2 separate regions of the Homo sapiens genome follow, and region 2 is linked to region 1. Evidence: fine-mapped expression QTL. Tissue or cell type: whole blood. Region 1 holds a variant in brackets; the other region holds the start of a gene. All regions are shown on one strand. Distances are between the middles of the regions.

Region 1 (8,103 bases):
TCCCACTCCCAGGTAAATAGATGTTCCAAAGAGTTGAAAACATCTGATCACACAAAAACTTGTACACAAATATTCATACAGCGTTATTCTGGATATTATTATAACAGCCGAAAAGTGGGAACAATGTCCATGTCCATCAACTGAGGCACAGATAAGCAACATGGCCTAGCCACACAATGAGCTCTCATTCAGCAGTGAGAAGATGGGGCGTCCTGGTTCAGGCTACCACATGATAACCCCTGAAAACAGTATGCTAAGTGAAAGAAGTCAGACACAAAAGGTGACATGTACAATTCCATTTATATGAAATGCCTAGAAGCTGGATGCAGTGGCTCACGCCTGTAGTCCCAACTATTTGGGAGGCCCAGGCAGGAGGATTACTTGAGCCCAGGAGTTTGAATCCAGCCTGGAAAACATAGCGCGACCTCATCTCTGAATAAATTATTTAATTTAATTTTTTAAAAAATGTCCAGAAGAGACAAATGCATAGAGACAGAAAGTACATTAGTTGGGGGACAAGGAAAGGGGAAGTAACTGCTAACAGGCACGAGGTTTCTTGGGGGTGATGGAATGTTCCAGAGTTAGCTAGAGGTAGGTGTCATAGAGCATTATGAATATACTCAAAACCACTGCAATGTGCATTTTGAAATGGCAAAATTTGTGTTATATGAACCTTTACTCAATAAATACATAAATAAATAAATAATAAATAAATAAATAAATAAATAAATAAATAAAAAGGCAACAACAGCCACCCCAGGGACAGGTTTGGAAAGCCAAACTTGTCTGACTGGCTGGGTGGCTTGTCTATTTGTGTGTTTCTTAAAACAGCATCCTACAGGAGAACTATTCTTTGCTCAGGGAAACCCCCACCCCCTCACTCCACTCCTACCTCGAGACAAGGCCTCTGAGGAGCAGATGGGAGGAGAGGGGCTCTGGGGAAACATAGGGGGCATTGCAGTGGGGTGCTGCCCTCTCCTTGGGCAGGTGCCCCCATGATGAGCAGACTCAAGGTCCAGCTACAGTCCCAGCTCTGGTACAGGTCCTGTCCCTTTCCTCAGTTTCCCCATCTGCAGTCTGCCTCCCGGGGTCTTTCTGAGGTCAGTATGTAGCATGACAGAGCCTGAGAACTGCCAAACTGCCATGTTCTCTCAGAGACCCCTTTTTGGCATGCATTCCAGATGTGGGACCAGAGGTTGGGAAGTTCTTCCTTTGGTCTGACCACAGTATTCCACTTGGAGACAGCAGTGGGAAGAGGCCTTCCACTGAGTCACCCTGACTCAACTTTCATCAGCTTCAGGCCCCCCGTGGGGGTCCTTCCCCCACCGGATGCTCACTTTGCTGTAATGGGGCAGGATGTGGGTTCCCTGCTGTGGGAGAGCAGCCCCCACAGCAGCTGCTCCCTAAGATGGTTCTGGCAGGAACCAATGAGAGGAGAAAGCTGATCCTCAACCCCTGCAGGGGCCCTGCAGCCCAAGCAGAGGGCCTCTCAGCCCACCTCGGTCCCAAGTAGGACAGATTGACAGGTGACCTCCCTGTCTCAGAGCCTCAGGGTGTCTTGGAACAAGTGATCCCATCATCTTCCTCTGAGGTCCAAGACTCGGGTGCTAATGGACTCTGTGTAGGGAACCCTGGTCACTGGGGCAGACTCTGTCCCAGACCTGATCTTTGCCATTTTGCCAGAGTGGCCCACCTGACTGCTTCTCTCTGCTGTGTGTATCACTTGTATTAACCGCGAACCCAGCAAAGAGAGCAGGAGCTTGGGCCGGGCACAGTGGCTCACACATGTAATCCCAGCATTCTGGGAGGCTGAAGCAGGTGGATGACTTGAGGTCAGGAGTTTGAGACAAGCCTGGTCAACATGGTGAAACCCCGTATCTACTAAAAATTAAAAAAAAAAAAAAATTAACCAGGCGTGGTGTAATCCCAGCTACTCAAGAGGCTGAGGCAAGAGAATCACTCGAACTCGGGAGGCAGAGGTTGCAGTGAGTCAAGATCGTGCCACCGCACTCCAGCCTAGGCAACAGAACAAGATCCTATCTCAAAAAAAAAAAAAAAAAGTAAAAGTAGAACCCCTGTTTCTTGAGGACAAAGATTAGATGCATCTTTTTGTTGTGAAATTTTGGTAAACTACTTACTCTTTCTCAGCCTCAGTTCTTTGAACTATGAAATGGAGACAATAGTAATAGTATCAACCTCAAAGGGCTGGTGAGAAAACTAACCAAGACAATTCACACAAAGTTTCAGAACAGTCCCGGGCAGGTGCGTGACTTACGCATTTGGCTTTTGTTCACCACTATTACTACTTGCTTATTGAAGCTGAGCCAGGTGGCTGAGCAATGTCCCTTTCTGGCAAGGAGGGTGGAGGCAAGTGTCACATTTCAGAAAGATCCCTGGGCTCCTGTTGAATCTGTCCCCACACCAAAACATGCCCGTGGGGGCTCTAGCTCCTGCCCCAGCAGCGAAAGGGGCTCCTCCTTCTCTGGTGCCCAGTCCTAGCTCACCTGCTCTTCACAAGCCTCCTCCCAGCACAGCCTGCACCACACAGGTGCTCAGTAAGGGGGTTGCTCTGAACAGGGAGCAGGCCCACATGCTGAGAGTGGTGGAGGCGTGCAGGCTCTGATGACCACCTGAACCCAGACTCCAGGGCAGGACAGGTCCTTACAGACCGTAAGGGCTTCCTGCCTACCCTCTTCCCATGCAGTTACCTCAACCCTGGGACACCAGGAAGGTTGAGCATTCCAGGAAAGCCCCGACCCACCCAGGAAACCCAAGTACCTGGTGGGGCCTCATCTGGCCCATTGTCCTGAAAGGACAGGAATAAAGGCTCTCTCCTCATGGCCACACACCCTAGGGACGTCCAGCCTCCAGCTTTCTGTGGGTGGGGCAAATGACTGAGGAGGCTTCCCTCCCTGCAGGCGCCTCCCTCTGGGGCCTCCTGTGGTCCAGTCGTCCCTGGTCCCCAGCTCTCAGGTGGGTCATAGGGCATCTCAGCAGGACCACCAGGAAGAGCATCAGGAGGGGAAGGAGCCAGAGAGCCCTCCAGGCCAGTGCACTGCTAACTCAACATCTCATCTTCCTATCTCGTCCCTTCTGCTCACCTCCGGAGACTCCCCCTCCCCTCTCATGCTCTTCACTGGCAGGTTATGATGGCCCAGAGATCCCCACCAGAGTCCCAGATATCAGTGGGGATCCCAGCCTATTCCTCCAAGCTCCCAGTTGCCAGTGACAGGGAGGCAGAAACAGCCTGGAAATTAACTGTGGGTTCTCCCTGAGCCTGTGGATACATGGAAAGAGAGCTTCACCACCACCCCCTTCTCTGAATATACATACAGGATCTGAGGAGGGAGGATTCTGTGTGGATGCATGTGTGCACAGATGTGCATGTTTGTACGTGTGTATGGGTGAGCAGGTCATACGTGTGGTCCCATGTGCCCACCTGTTGTATATATGCATGCTTGTTTTGTGTAAGTGAGCATAAGAGGTCAAGCCAGAGAGAGAAATAGGAACAAGGAGAGACAGAGAGAGAGAGAATAGAAACAGAGACCAACAGGGAAACAGAATGAGACTGAGACAGAGAACAACAGAAGGCCAGACAGGTAGACAAGCCACAGTTCCATCTTCCCTGGTGCTGGCTGCCAAGGCAGACAACTCTCCTCTCACTTCATTGATGTTCTGCCTGTGTTTATACCCATGATTGGGGTGGAGTTCAGGAAAGGATGTATCAGGGCTAGGACGCCCCCACCTCCACACTCACAGGGCCAGTCAGGGCCCTCTGCAGGGGCTGCCATTTCCTCAAGCTGAGGAATGGGCTTGGATCCCTCGGATGCCTTCCAGGGTGCAGGGGCGCTCCCAGTGACTGGGCTCTTGTGGTGGCTGGGGAGGGGGAGCTCCTCTGACAGGCCCCATGCTGGGGGAAACGTCCTGAGACTGACCTATCACGGGCTGACATGCACACCAAGGAGGTCTCACATCTGCTGGGAAATGAGGGGCTGGTGGAGGTGAGAAAACCTCAAGTTCTAATGCCTTCCCAACACCTTCACCTCACCTGAGAAGCTTCTAGATTCCACCCACCCCTGTTTCCTTGGGGGAGGGTGTTGTGTGGAGGTGGGAAGAGGCAGGAGTCCAGGTTCTAGGCCAGGCTCTGAAGGGGCAGGTAGCTCAGAGCAAGAGGCTGGCCTTGCACCTGCTCTGCCTAATGGGACAGTAATGCCCACGATGGCATTCCGCCTCTGAGGGCTGTGGTGAGGCTGTGGAGAGATGTCAGGGACAAGAAAAGGCCTTGGAAACCAGCTGTGGGAAGAACAGCCCATGAGCTCAGCATTTCCCCTGGCTTCCCCGAAAGCCGGCCCCCAGGAGAGGAAGGTGACTGTGAC[T/G]TCTGCCGCCACCACTTCCTGCAGCTGGGACCCTGCTCACTCAGAATGTGGAACCGTCATGGGCCAGCAGTGTCACCTGCACACTCACTCCTGCCACCAGGAAACCCTTCTGCAGGGCAGGTCCCCAAGCCCCGTATCTCAGGTTCTGACCAGGATGTGTCCTCAGCAGTGGTCGCCCGACATTGATGGGAGGGACGGGTCCCAGCTGGGCATCAGGATATGGAGGGTTTCATTCCAGCTCTGCCACCAAGGTACTGGTTGCCTCGAGGCATTCCCCTTGCTGGACCTCATTGAGGAGACTTCCTGTATTGCTAAGCAGGCAGGAACCCCAGAAGCTCAGAGCCGGAAGGCACCAGGGCTTCCCACAAGATGTGGAGGACCCAAAACAGGGAGACAGGCCCTGGCACCTAAGCGTTCCTTCTGGGCTCTACACAAGGTGTGGGTGGCACCAGAGCTACTGCAGGCTACTTGATCCAAGGGGCAGTCCTGCTCCACCGTGGGCTGGACGAAGACATCATCTACTCCAGGGCATCCACGCGTGGGGTGGGAGCCAACAGACCTGCGGTGCTGCCTTCCAGCTTGGGACTGGCCCCCGTACTCCATCCCGTGCACCCAGCCCTTCCGGCTCACCCCTTCCATGGCATGTTGTGCTCTCTCGCACCCCATGCTTTGCATGTGCTGGTTTCATTACCTGCAACACCTTCACCCCACTTGTGTCTGGCTAGCGTCCCCTCCAGAATGGAGAGTGGACAAAACATGGGGTCTGGAATTCCAGGGGTCAGGGCCCAGGCTGTTAGGAAAGGCAGAGTGTGAAGCAGACCCTCAGCAGGCCTCACAGCAGGGAGTGCTGAGCTCAGGGTTCTCAGGGGCCAGGATGGGACAGACGCCGAGGAGATGGGGGTCGGTAGCTGGGGCAGATTGTGCAGACAGTCTGGATTGTGGAGGAGCTGCCGGGCGCAGGGCCCCACTTGGCGCGGGCGGCTGTGGGGGAGGCTGAAACTGCAGACTATTTTTAGGCTCCTGCTGAATTGAGAGATGAGGATGCTCTGGGCTACAAGCCCTCATTCGCTGGGGAAAGACTAAGGGGGCCCCAGTTCCCCCGATCTGCCCCCAGAGCTCAAAGTCTCCAGAGCTTCCTCTTTTGTCTCTAGGGACCAAGGGCTGGGGTCAGGAAGTGGACTGGAAGTATCCCCAGCACCCTAGATAGGCAAACACCCACAAGAAGTGATTTCCATACCATTTGCACACTGCCCTGCTTCCTGATCAGAAGGAACGGAAACGTTCCCTTTCAGAAGACCCTCAGCGGAGCAGTGCATTCACCAGAGTCCACTTTCACCTGCCCCACTGGGTATCAGGAGAGTCCCAGGAGAGCGACACAAGCTCTAAAGTCAGAAAGCACAAACGGGGGTTGTTAGCACTGTGGTGTAGCATCCGCTAGGCTCGGGGTAGCAAATAAGTTCCATCTGATCAATTGCTGGTGACTCCTAAGGAGAAATGCTGGTGAGGATCCATTCATTCATTCCACAAATAATTTACTGACCACCTACTGTGTGCTAGGTGCTACTCTAGGTGCTATGAAATTTAGCTGTGAACAAAAAAAGACAAAATTCCCTGCCCCCGCAGAGCAGATATTCCGTAACAGTGTTGTCCAACAGAAATACAATATGAGCCACACACATAATTTAAAATGTTCCAGTAGCCACACTAGATAAAAGTTAAAGAAGACCAGGAGCGGTGGCTCACGCCTGTAATCCCAGCATTTTGGGAGGCCAAGGCGGGCAGATCATTTGAGGTCAGGAGTTGGAGACCAGCCTGGCCAACATGGTGAAACCCCGTCTCTACTGAAAATACAAACATTAGCCGGGCGTGGTGGCGGGCGCCTGTAATCTCAGCTACTCGGGAGGCTGAGGTAGGAGAATCGCTTAACCTGGGAGGCGAAGGTTGTGGTGAGCCAAGGTCCTGCCACTGCACTTCATTCTGTGCTACAGAGCAAGACTCCATCTAAAAAACAAAACAACAACAACAAAAAAAGTTAAAGAAATAGGTGGAATTAATTTTTGTATGTTATCTAGCCAAATATATCTTATATCTGAAATATTATCATTTCTTTTTTTCTTTTTTTTTTGAGACAGAGTTTCATTCTTGTTGCCCAGGCTGGAGTAAAATGGAGCAATCTCAGCTCACTGCAACCTTTGCCTCCCAGGTTCAGGCGATTCTCCTGCCTCAGCCTCCCAAATAACTGGGATTACAGGTACACGCCACCATGCCCACCTAATTTTTGTATTTTTAGTAGAGACAGGGTTTCACCATGTTAGCCAGGCTGGTCTCAAACTCCTGACCTCAGGTGATCTACTGACCTCAGCCTCCCAAAGCTCTGGGATTACAGGTGTGAGCCACCACGCCCAACCTCTAATATTATCATTTCAAAGTGTAATCGATGTAAAAATTTAAGGTCATTTTTTTCATATTATGTTTTCAAAATCCAGTGTGTTGTTTATACTTACAGCACATCTCAATTCAGATGAGCCCTATTTCAAGTGCCCAGTAGCCCCCAGAGAATGCAAGTTCTGAAGAAAATCACTCATATGAGCTCAGGAAAGGAATGCCACAATTGATCAGCAATGCCTGCTCCAGGCATAGGCTACAGCTGAATCAAGCTGCAAGCCATGTGTTTCCCCACCATGATATAGGCTCAGCCCCAAAGGACGTGTTCACCTCTACCTAAGCCCTTCTGAGCTCATTTATTTTGCCCAACTTGAAAGAACTGCCAGAGTTCTGGGACCTTGACTTGGTTCGAGTGCAGCGGTTCTGGTGTGAACACCACCCTACAGAAACGCCCCAGCATACTAACAGGGCCAGCGCCTCCCGAGTGTGGTTCTGTGCTCCTTCCCTTGGTGGGGGCTGACTCATGGCCATTGGTGACCCTGAGAATGTGGATTTTGTTTTTGTTTTTCTCCCAAGGTCTCTTCCTCCCAGAGTTAACCAATATTGAGATAAAAGTGTTTCCGAGCCAGATTTAGCCATTTCAGCCCCATTCCACTGGCCCAAGCCTACAGACCTCCTGTCTGGCACTGTAGCCAGGATGGCTGCACTTTCTTTTCCAGTAAGCAGAAGGCTAAAATTGGACCATTTAAGGAGCTAGAAACACCTGGAAATGGTGAGGAGTGGGTCTTTGGTGTAAGAGATGGGGTGTAAGAAAACACGGATCTCAGGCTCCCATTATCCTCACCATTATTATCATTATCATCTACCCCACCCCTGCTCAAAATCCTTCAATTGCTCCCTAGTGTCTGCAGGATAAAGATCTTGCTTTAGTTCCCAGGATCGGGAACTGCTGGAGTCATCCAGTCTCACCTCTAGATACTCTCCCTTCTCTCATCTTATTCATTCATTCAGTAAGAATGTCCTGAGCACCTAATATGTGCCAGGCACTGTTCTAGGTACTAGAGATACAGCTGTGAACAAAACTGCCAAGGATTTCTGGCTTCATGGAGCTCACTTTACTCCAGCGAGCCCATAACACCCCAGGCCCTCTCACACTCCCAGGCCTTTGTAAATGCTGTTCCCTCTCCATTCAGTCACTCTCCTCCTGGGGAACTTCTACACATCCTCTAAGGCCCTACTCAAAGCCTTCCCTGAGCACTCCGCTCAATGGGTTAGGTTCCTCCTCTGAGCTCCCACCTCCCACCTAGGACCGTCACACGTATGGTCACTGTCCAGCCCACAG
Region 2 (8,103 bases), 32 kb after region 1:
TAAACAGGCCACCACAGACTCTGCCCAGCCCCTCCCATCCCAGAGAGAGAGAAATCCTAAGACATTAAATCTCAGAAAAGGATGAGCCCCCTCCCCTACCCTCTTTGGGCATTTGGGGAAACTGGGGTTCAGTAAAAGGCAAAGACTTGCCCAGTCACAGAGCAAATTAGGTCACAGCCTGAACCAGGCTCCCGACCTCCCAGCTCTCTCCCCTATACCATGGTCATCATTGGACCTGTGCCAGCGTCCATTCCACCGGACCTGCTCTCAGAATCTTCACTGTCCAGGACAGAGGGGTCACAGAGCTTGGTAGGAAGCTCCTGGTGACCTCACCAAGCATCTCTCTTGGCTTAGGAAACTCCCCCTCTCCTCCGGGGAATTGCCCCCCCACCATGAGACTCTGTGGAGGGAGTTCACCTTGAAGGTGATGAACACATCTAAGTCCCCAAGGGGGCAAGGATTTCCACTGGAAATGCTGATGCTTGGGAAGCCCCAGATGTGACCTCATCCCCTGGAGGAGGTAACAACAACCTCCTGCCCTGGGGAGCAGCCCCAGAATGGCTCCCCAGCAGCCACCAAGTCAACAATAACATCCCGTTGTTTCACTGGACAAAAGCGAGGGAGGGCAGAACCAGCCGGGCAGGTTGAGACTGGGGATATGGGTTCTGTTTCCCCATGGACAGGCTGGTTCACCTCTGACCTTGGGGTTCCAAGCCTTCTTTAGCTCCTCCAACCACTGATAAAATGGAAGAGGGGTGCACAGCTTACAAACGCATGCCAACCTCCTGCTAAGCCCCAGCCCTCACCTGCAATCTACTCCCTTACAGTTCCTGCTTACAGGAAGATCAGGACCACACATGCACATCCTTGACTGGCCCATGTGTCAGTGACAGCCCTTGGGGGACAATCCCTACAGCCTTTCTTGCTCTGGCAGGCTCTAAGGGTCAAAGACAAGTGTGGAGCTCAAGGACACCCAGCAGGTACATGATGGCCCATCTCTCTCCCTGGCCTGAGCTACGCTGTGCCAGACTTTCATCAAGCTGCAGAGGCAGCAATCTCCCTGATCAGTGCAGGCTGGGCCCCTCTCAGAGTTCCCTGCTTTAATCTTTCTCTAGAACTTGGGGATCCAAGCAGCAGAAAATAAAGAACTTTCCATACCTATTCCAGTCCCCACAGCTGTCCTGACTCAAAACTAAAACCCCCATCTATGCCTCATAGAGAAATGGCTCCAGAACCACCACCATCCCTGATTTTGTCATTCCTGGATACCACCATACTCCCACCCACCACTGGTAGACAGAGCTCTAGGCTTCCAGAAAGACCCCCTCTTACCCTGTTCCTGGGTTTGTCCTACCCAAGCCCATTCCTGTCCGATTGCCATGTGTCACCCCACAGGAGACAGGAGGCAGCTGTCAGTCGGGCACACCATCACCAGCTGGTGGCCCTGGGGGTGGGGGGCAGGTGAATGGCAGGGCCTGTCTGGCCAGTGGGGCACCTGGCACTGGTGAAGGAGACCACAGACTGTCGTTGGACAAGACTGGTGAACGGTTGGCAGACCCCAGCCAGCGGGGCTCAACAGTGCATTACTAAGCAGAGGGCACAGCCAGTGTGGCTACAGCAGTGAACTGCGGGCGGGGGGGTAGGCCATGGAGCTGTGCTGGGAGCTTCGAAAAGTGGGTAAGAGGACTGAAAGCAACTTTAAATAGCCTCAGGGTGGGAACTAAGTGCCCAGGATGGGATGTATGCATTAAGTGCTAAGAAGTGGGTGTGCATTAAGTGGGGTGGGGGTGGGGGGTCATGGGAAGACTTTGGGACAGGCAAACAGAGTCAAAATGCAAGGGGTTTGATGGAGGGAAAGATTCCAGAACACTCAGATGTGGCCATTTGTCCCCTCCAGAGTGCCCACACGCTATGATGTCCAAGACAGCCAAGGAGACTGAGGGAAGGCAAAGCTGCTGGGAGGGCAAAGGAAGCTTGGGCTGGAGCTGGGATGGCAGAGGGGTGTGCAGGCCTCCTCCATGTACAGGCGGCCGGAGCTCTAGCAGCACTGCTCGGCTTCCTCCAGGAGCACCTCAGGCTGGGTAGCCGAGCTGGTCCCCAGAGCACCTCATTCATGGTCCCTGAACCACCTAAATCCTTCTCCCCTCCCTAACCCAGAACCTGGACTGGTCCTGTGCCAGATCAGAGCCCCTGCCTGCACCTGGGCTCCCACACTGCTCAGTGACCTTGGGCAAGTCACATTCCCTCAGCTACTGCGGCAGTTCGGGCCACTCGTTTTGTGTATGGTTTTTTTTCCCCTCTGCTAATAATACCTGCCCCAGATAATGCTCAGACTCCCGCAATCCCTGCAAACTGCCAAAGGCATCAAAAGGCTCCCGGTGGGGCCAGACCCGACCAGTTCCCCCAGCCCCCACTGCGAGTCCCCCACCATCACGACAGGGGGGCCGCAGACACGCCAAATTTGGGGACAGAGCCGAATCGGACTGGGGGCGGGGAGGCATTTGTGTGCAATGCAGGGGAGGGGAGATCAGTTCCTCGCGGCAGAAAGCCTCAAACCCCCGCCTAACCGGCTTTCTGTCCCATAGTACAGGGTCTAAACTGAGGTGCCCTGGGGGAGACTCCAGTCCCCCAGGTTCTTATTATCTACCCTGGCCTAAAGGCTGCACCCCCGCCCTAGATCCACCGCCTGGGGGTCCCAACGGCCGTGCCCCACCCAACGGGCACTGCCCCCCAACGCTGGAGCCGATTTCTGGTGACAACTGCCACGTGCGGGCAAGGGGGGAGCGGCCGGTCCCGGCATTGCTGAGGCAGCGCCCTGGTACCCCAAGCCGCCGCACCGCACCATGTCCCGCCGCTCGCTGCAGGATGCCCACCCCCTTGCCTGGCCCGAGCTCCGGGCCGGGGCGGGGGCGGGGGCAGGCGGCGGGGTCTTTGTTCCCGCTGCCGAAGCGCGGCGGCGGCGGCAAGGGGTCCGCGCCCCCCTTGCCGGCCCAGCCTGCGCCCCGCGCGCCAGCAGAGCCCGCAGCTCAAAAGGAGGGTACCCGGGTTGGGGTCCCAGGCGGGGAAAGGTCCTCCGCCGAAGCCCCCGAGCCAGAGGACCCAGAGTGGCTCGGGGCCGAGAGAGGGGCCCGCCCCCTCCCCTGGCGCCCGGGCGTTGCGGCTCCTGGCTGCCAGGGACTTGGTGCGACTTAGCCGGGGCTCCGGCCCCCGCCGCTCGCTCGCCGCAGCGTTACAGCCGGCTCTGGTGTGCCAGCGTGTACACTCACACACACTCACCCAAACCCACACGCTCCACGCGGGGACAGCGCGGGGACAGCCCGGGACCCGCAGAGCTGCGCGCACGCACTCCCTCCGGGTGCAGCACACTCCGCACCCGCCCCGCGCAGCGTCTGATCCCGCGCCTGACCGGCCGCGCGGCGCCGCCTACCTTTCCAGACGGCGAAGATGCGGGGTCCGCTCCTTAGGTGGCCCTGGGCGGAGGCGGCGGCCGCCCAGAGCAGCAGCAGCAGCCGCAGCCGCAGCGGAAGCCCCAACCGAGCCGGCGGGCCAGGGACGCGGGCGCGCGGTGCGCTGGGGGCGGCACGTCCGGGCGGAGGAGGCGTCATCCCGTGGCCCCGGGAGCGACAGCGGCAATCAGCCGAGACTGAGCCAGCGCCCGGCCGCAGGCAGACCCAAGCGCCAGGAGGCGGAGCCAGCGCTGACCCCACCCCGCCCCTCCCCCCGCCCCTCGCAGCCTTTTCTCGCCTCACTGGCTTTCCTGAGCGAGAGCGGAACTGCTGGGGGAACCTTCGCCACCCTCTCCCGGGCAACTCTACGGGGAAAGCCCAGCTGCGGACAAGCCAGACTTGTGGTCTTCTGCCAGGGGCGGCAGGCCCTATCCCCTCTCTGGGCCTCAGTTCCACTCCCCGCACCCCGTAAAAAGATTGGCGTAGAAGTCGTGGAGGACCTCTCTCCAAGGGCGCAGAGGAGTCCAACACCCAACAACCTTGCTATGGCCAGCTAAGTGGTTCGCACCCTGAGGACTATGGTCCTCGGAGGATGCGTTCGCCTAAGTGGACACGGCTCCCTGCTGAGCCTACCAGCAGGCACAACGATGATATGTGGGGAGCACTCAGGGACCCGCTGTTGCTTTGCCTGGGAGAACACTGGAAATTTTTCATCTTGGCCTGGCTCCTTCCCCTCCCTCTCCTTTCTCCTCCCTTTCCCAGCCAGCAGCCTTCTGGGCTGCCTCCCCCCAAGCCAGCTGGTGTACGCTCAGAAAATCCAAACTCATTTCCATGTGAGTGGAGGGGGATATAATTAGGAAGGCCCCTTCCCCAAGTAGAGAGGGGAGCATCCCCCGTGCCCCACTCACTGTGGGGGAGGGAGGGTCAAAGCAGCTTAAGGGGATCTCTGCCCGCAAAGTGCCTAGGGCTCAGCTATCTCAGGCAACCTGACCATTCAGTGGGGACTCCCTTGGGGGGTCCAGGCCCAGACCCTCTGCAGTTACCTGAGCAGTCCAGCCAGCTCTGCCATCAGCTCCTCCTCTCAGAACTACGTGCCTGCCCTTTGTAAAAGGGTCTCCTCTCTCTAGACCAGACAGGGCCCAGACCTACCACTTCCACTTGTGCCCCAGGGAACCATGAATGGAAAATCCACCCAGCTCAGTAAGTACTTATCTAGTGTTTACTGGATGTCTAGCTGCACTGAGAGGAGACAGGCCGAGGAAGGAGTAGAGGTGAACATCCAACCTTCAGAACTCACAGACCTAGACACGATTCACGCACTGCAGACACCAGCAAAGGCGGTGGGCTGGCTGCCCTCTGCCCTCTGCCCTGCTCCATGGGGCCAGGACCATTTGGTTGTTGTTTTTACCTCCTGGAACCAGGAAAGTTTTGCTACCAAGAAGTTTGGCTTTACCATTCTACATTTTGCTTCCAGTTGTCCCCTCCTTCTTCCCTCAGAGTCCTGAGGCACCCCAGCAGGCCAGGAAGGTAAACTCAAGGTACCTCCAGAGACAGTGCAGAGTGAGGTTCCTGGCCCACTGGGTGAAGCCAACAGCCTCCTGATACACAGGGGCACACTGCCCCAGAGAGGGAGGCTGTGGACAGTCTAAGAGCTCCTCCTCAGGCCTGCACCTAAGCCTGTGGCCCTGAAGCCAGCAGTGGAGCCTGGCCCAGGCCAGCCTCTAAGATGGACATTCGGTTTCACCTGCTAGACAGGTATTGCCCTCAGTGTCTGTCCTCTCTATGCAAAGCTAGGGCAAACTAAGAAATCACCTGTCTCTGCCTTTTGGAACTAAGAATTCAAATGGATTCAAAATCAATGATAACACTGCCCATGTGCATGGCAACTCACAACACATAACCCACATTCACCTACCTCATCTCTGCCAGTCCTCCACTCTCTTCCTCTCACTGAGGGAGGGAGCGTAACTCCACTGCAGAGAAGAAAACTGAGGTACAGGGAGGGACAAGGACGGACCTGCCCGAGGTCAACCGGTAAATGGTAGAACGAAGATGGGTTTTCTGACTGCAATAACAATTGCTAACACTGTGGTTCCTATGTGCTGTGCCATCTCATAGCCTCTCCCAACTCATTCAATCTTCGCACTCCTATGAGATAGGAGCTATTAGTCACCTCCCTTTACAAATGAAGAAATCAAGGCACAGACAAGGGATGTGAAGTGCCAGGATCGCACAACTAGAGGCAGGACGGATTGAAACTCAGGTGGTTTCTCAAGGACCCACACCCTTGACTTCTCTCTGTGTGATGTACCCTGGCACTGCTGCCTCCTGTCTGTGGCTGAAGTCTGGGTCCAAACCATCCCCAGAAGGACCTAGATAGGGCCCAGGTCACCAGGTGCTGAGTAGGAGGGCAGACCAGGGAATGGGCTCAATCTCCCAATCAACAGAGTAGCAGATGGAAACTGGGGTAGATGCCAGATAATTTTTTTTCCAGACTGGGGGGTAGGGGGGAAGGAAGTAGTACTTAAGACCATCCTCCCCACAAGCCAGCCAACCTGGGGACAAAGGGCCAGGCGAGATGGCAGCCCACTCTCTCGGTTGGCTGCAGGCAGCCAGGGGAGGAGAGAACTAAGCCCATGACTTGAGGCAATAACTTTATAAAGGGAAAGGCAGCTAGACTGTGGGGCAGGCACTATGACCAGAGTTTAGGCATGGACTTTCCTGCCTCAGGCAGCATAGGAAAATCAAGTCAGAATGGTATAGGTGGTGTCAGAGGCCTGCCTGCCTCATTGGAGGCCAAGGCTGGCTCTTGAGCCTGGACCAAGAACAGGGGCACAATTCCCACTCACAGCCAGTGATGGGAAGTGGACCAGCAGAGGAAGCAACACATGTGGATGCTGACACGTCTGATGGGGAGGCACATTCTTGTCCCTCCCTTCTCCATGATTCCACATTCAGGGGAGGGAGGAAGAAATGATGCAGGGCTTCTATCGATAAGAAAAATACCTTGAGAAGGATCACTTCCTGAGCCCCATGGACAGCTGAGGCACAGCCCAATCCAAGAAGGCTCCTTTTGGAATGAAAGAAATGGATACACACAGACCTGAGATTCATGGTCTTGAAGCAGTGGCAGAAGCCCCGGGCAATCCCCCCAACATTCCAACTAAAGCCTCTCACCTTTCAGGGTCCAACTTAACTCATCCTTCCATTCTCCAGAGTTATCTGACCTCCTCCTCAGCCCTGATTCCATGGCTACACATGGCCTTCACAGGAGTGACCCACCTCAAACAAGAGGCCTGTGGGAGATAGAAGGATTCCGTGAGGAGATAACATATGCAGACGTGAGGTCACCCACACACAGTTCACTTCCTTTCACAGATACGATGATCCAAGAATCCCAATTCTTAGGATTAGAAGTAGCTCTCAGAGGGCATTCAATCCCCAACAGCCCCCTCCATGCTAGATCCCACCCCTTCTTTGAGGCCTCAGAGCTTGGTGGCCATTCAGACCTCCTGGCTACTAACAGCAGCAACAATTCCTATTGCCTACCACCATTACTACCTATTGCAGGGGGCAGAGACTTGGAACTGATGAGAACGAGGGGAGTGGGTGGGCTGGGGTCTGCAGAACCCTGTGCTGTCTATAAGGCAATTTCGACTCAGCTCCAGCCCATGGAACCATGAAGAAGTAAACCCAGTAGTGAAAGGTAGTATGATTTTCAAGAGAAGCTGAAAATTGAGGGCTGGGCACGGTGGCTCATGCCTGTAATCCCAGCACTTTGGGAGGCCAAGGCAGGTGGATCACCTGAGGTCAGGAGTTCAAGATCAGCCTGCACAATATGGTGAAACCCCATCTCTACTAAAAAATACAAAAATTAGCCGGGCATGGTAGCGAGCGCCTGTAATTCCAGCTACTTGGGAGGCTGAGGCAGGAAAATCACTTAAACCCAGGAGGCGGAGGTTGCAGTGAACCAAGATCGCACCACTGCACTCCAGCATGGGACACAAGAGTGAAACTCTGTCTCAAAAAAAAAAAAAAGAAAAGAAAAGAAAAAAGAGGCCAGGGGTGGTGGCTCACGGCTGTAATCCCAGAACTTTGGGAGACCGAGGTGGGTGGATCACAAGGTCAATGATTTCTGTCCTAATCATTCTACATGCATTTTTATCTGACAAGGTCAGGAGTTCGAGACCAGCCTGGCCAAAATGGTGAAACCCCATTTCTACTAAAAATGTAAACATTAGCCGGGCATGGTGGCACGCAACTGTAATCCCAGCTACTTGGGAGGCTGAGGCAGGAGAATCACTTGAACCTGGGAGGTGGAGGTTGCAGTGAGCTGAGATTGCGCCATTGCACTCCAGCCTGGGTGACAGGGCGAGACTCCATCAAAAAAAAGAAAAGAAAATTGACTCTTTGTTGAAACTCTCTCTTTTAAAATATTGGCAAATAATTCAAAAGTTAAGGAGGATGGATATGGGCAAATAAAAACAGGTCTGGGGCCCATATCTGGGACCCCCAACATACCATGTGCCCACTGTGACTATCTCACAGGCACAGGCACGACAGTCACTATACCTGGCCCAACTCTTGGCAGACCATGTCAGGCAAGGAGTGCCAAGAAGACACTTCTCAGGCTGCCCAGGCCATGCCTCACCCTCCC

The links. PIP is the estimated chance that this variant, and not a neighbour inherited with it, causes the effect.
Region 2: it holds the start of SEMA7A, and the variant in region 1 is fine-mapped to the expression of SEMA7A in whole blood (TOPMed, PIP above 0.99).

What each region holds. Positions count from the first base shown.
Region 1 is chr15:74,398,748-74,406,850 of GRCh38, forward strand. No RefSeq gene overlaps it. Among named protein-coding and RNA genes, the nearest start is that of MIR6881, 8.6 kb to the right of the region's middle. RefSeq lists enhancers at 926-1,426, 1,185-1,414, 2,695-3,195, 3,925-3,974, 4,195-4,724 and 7 more and a silencer at 4,220-4,429. The variant T/G (reference allele first, on the strand shown) is at 4,377.
Region 2 is chr15:74,430,314-74,438,416 of GRCh38, forward strand. It overlaps SEMA7A (semaphorin 7A (JohnMiltonHagen blood group)), which reads right to left and starts at 3,645. Exons shown (of 14, transcript NM_003612.5): 1 at 3,428-3,645. The coding sequence starts at 3,605. RefSeq lists silencers at 2,808-2,927, 3,078-3,227, 3,278-3,787.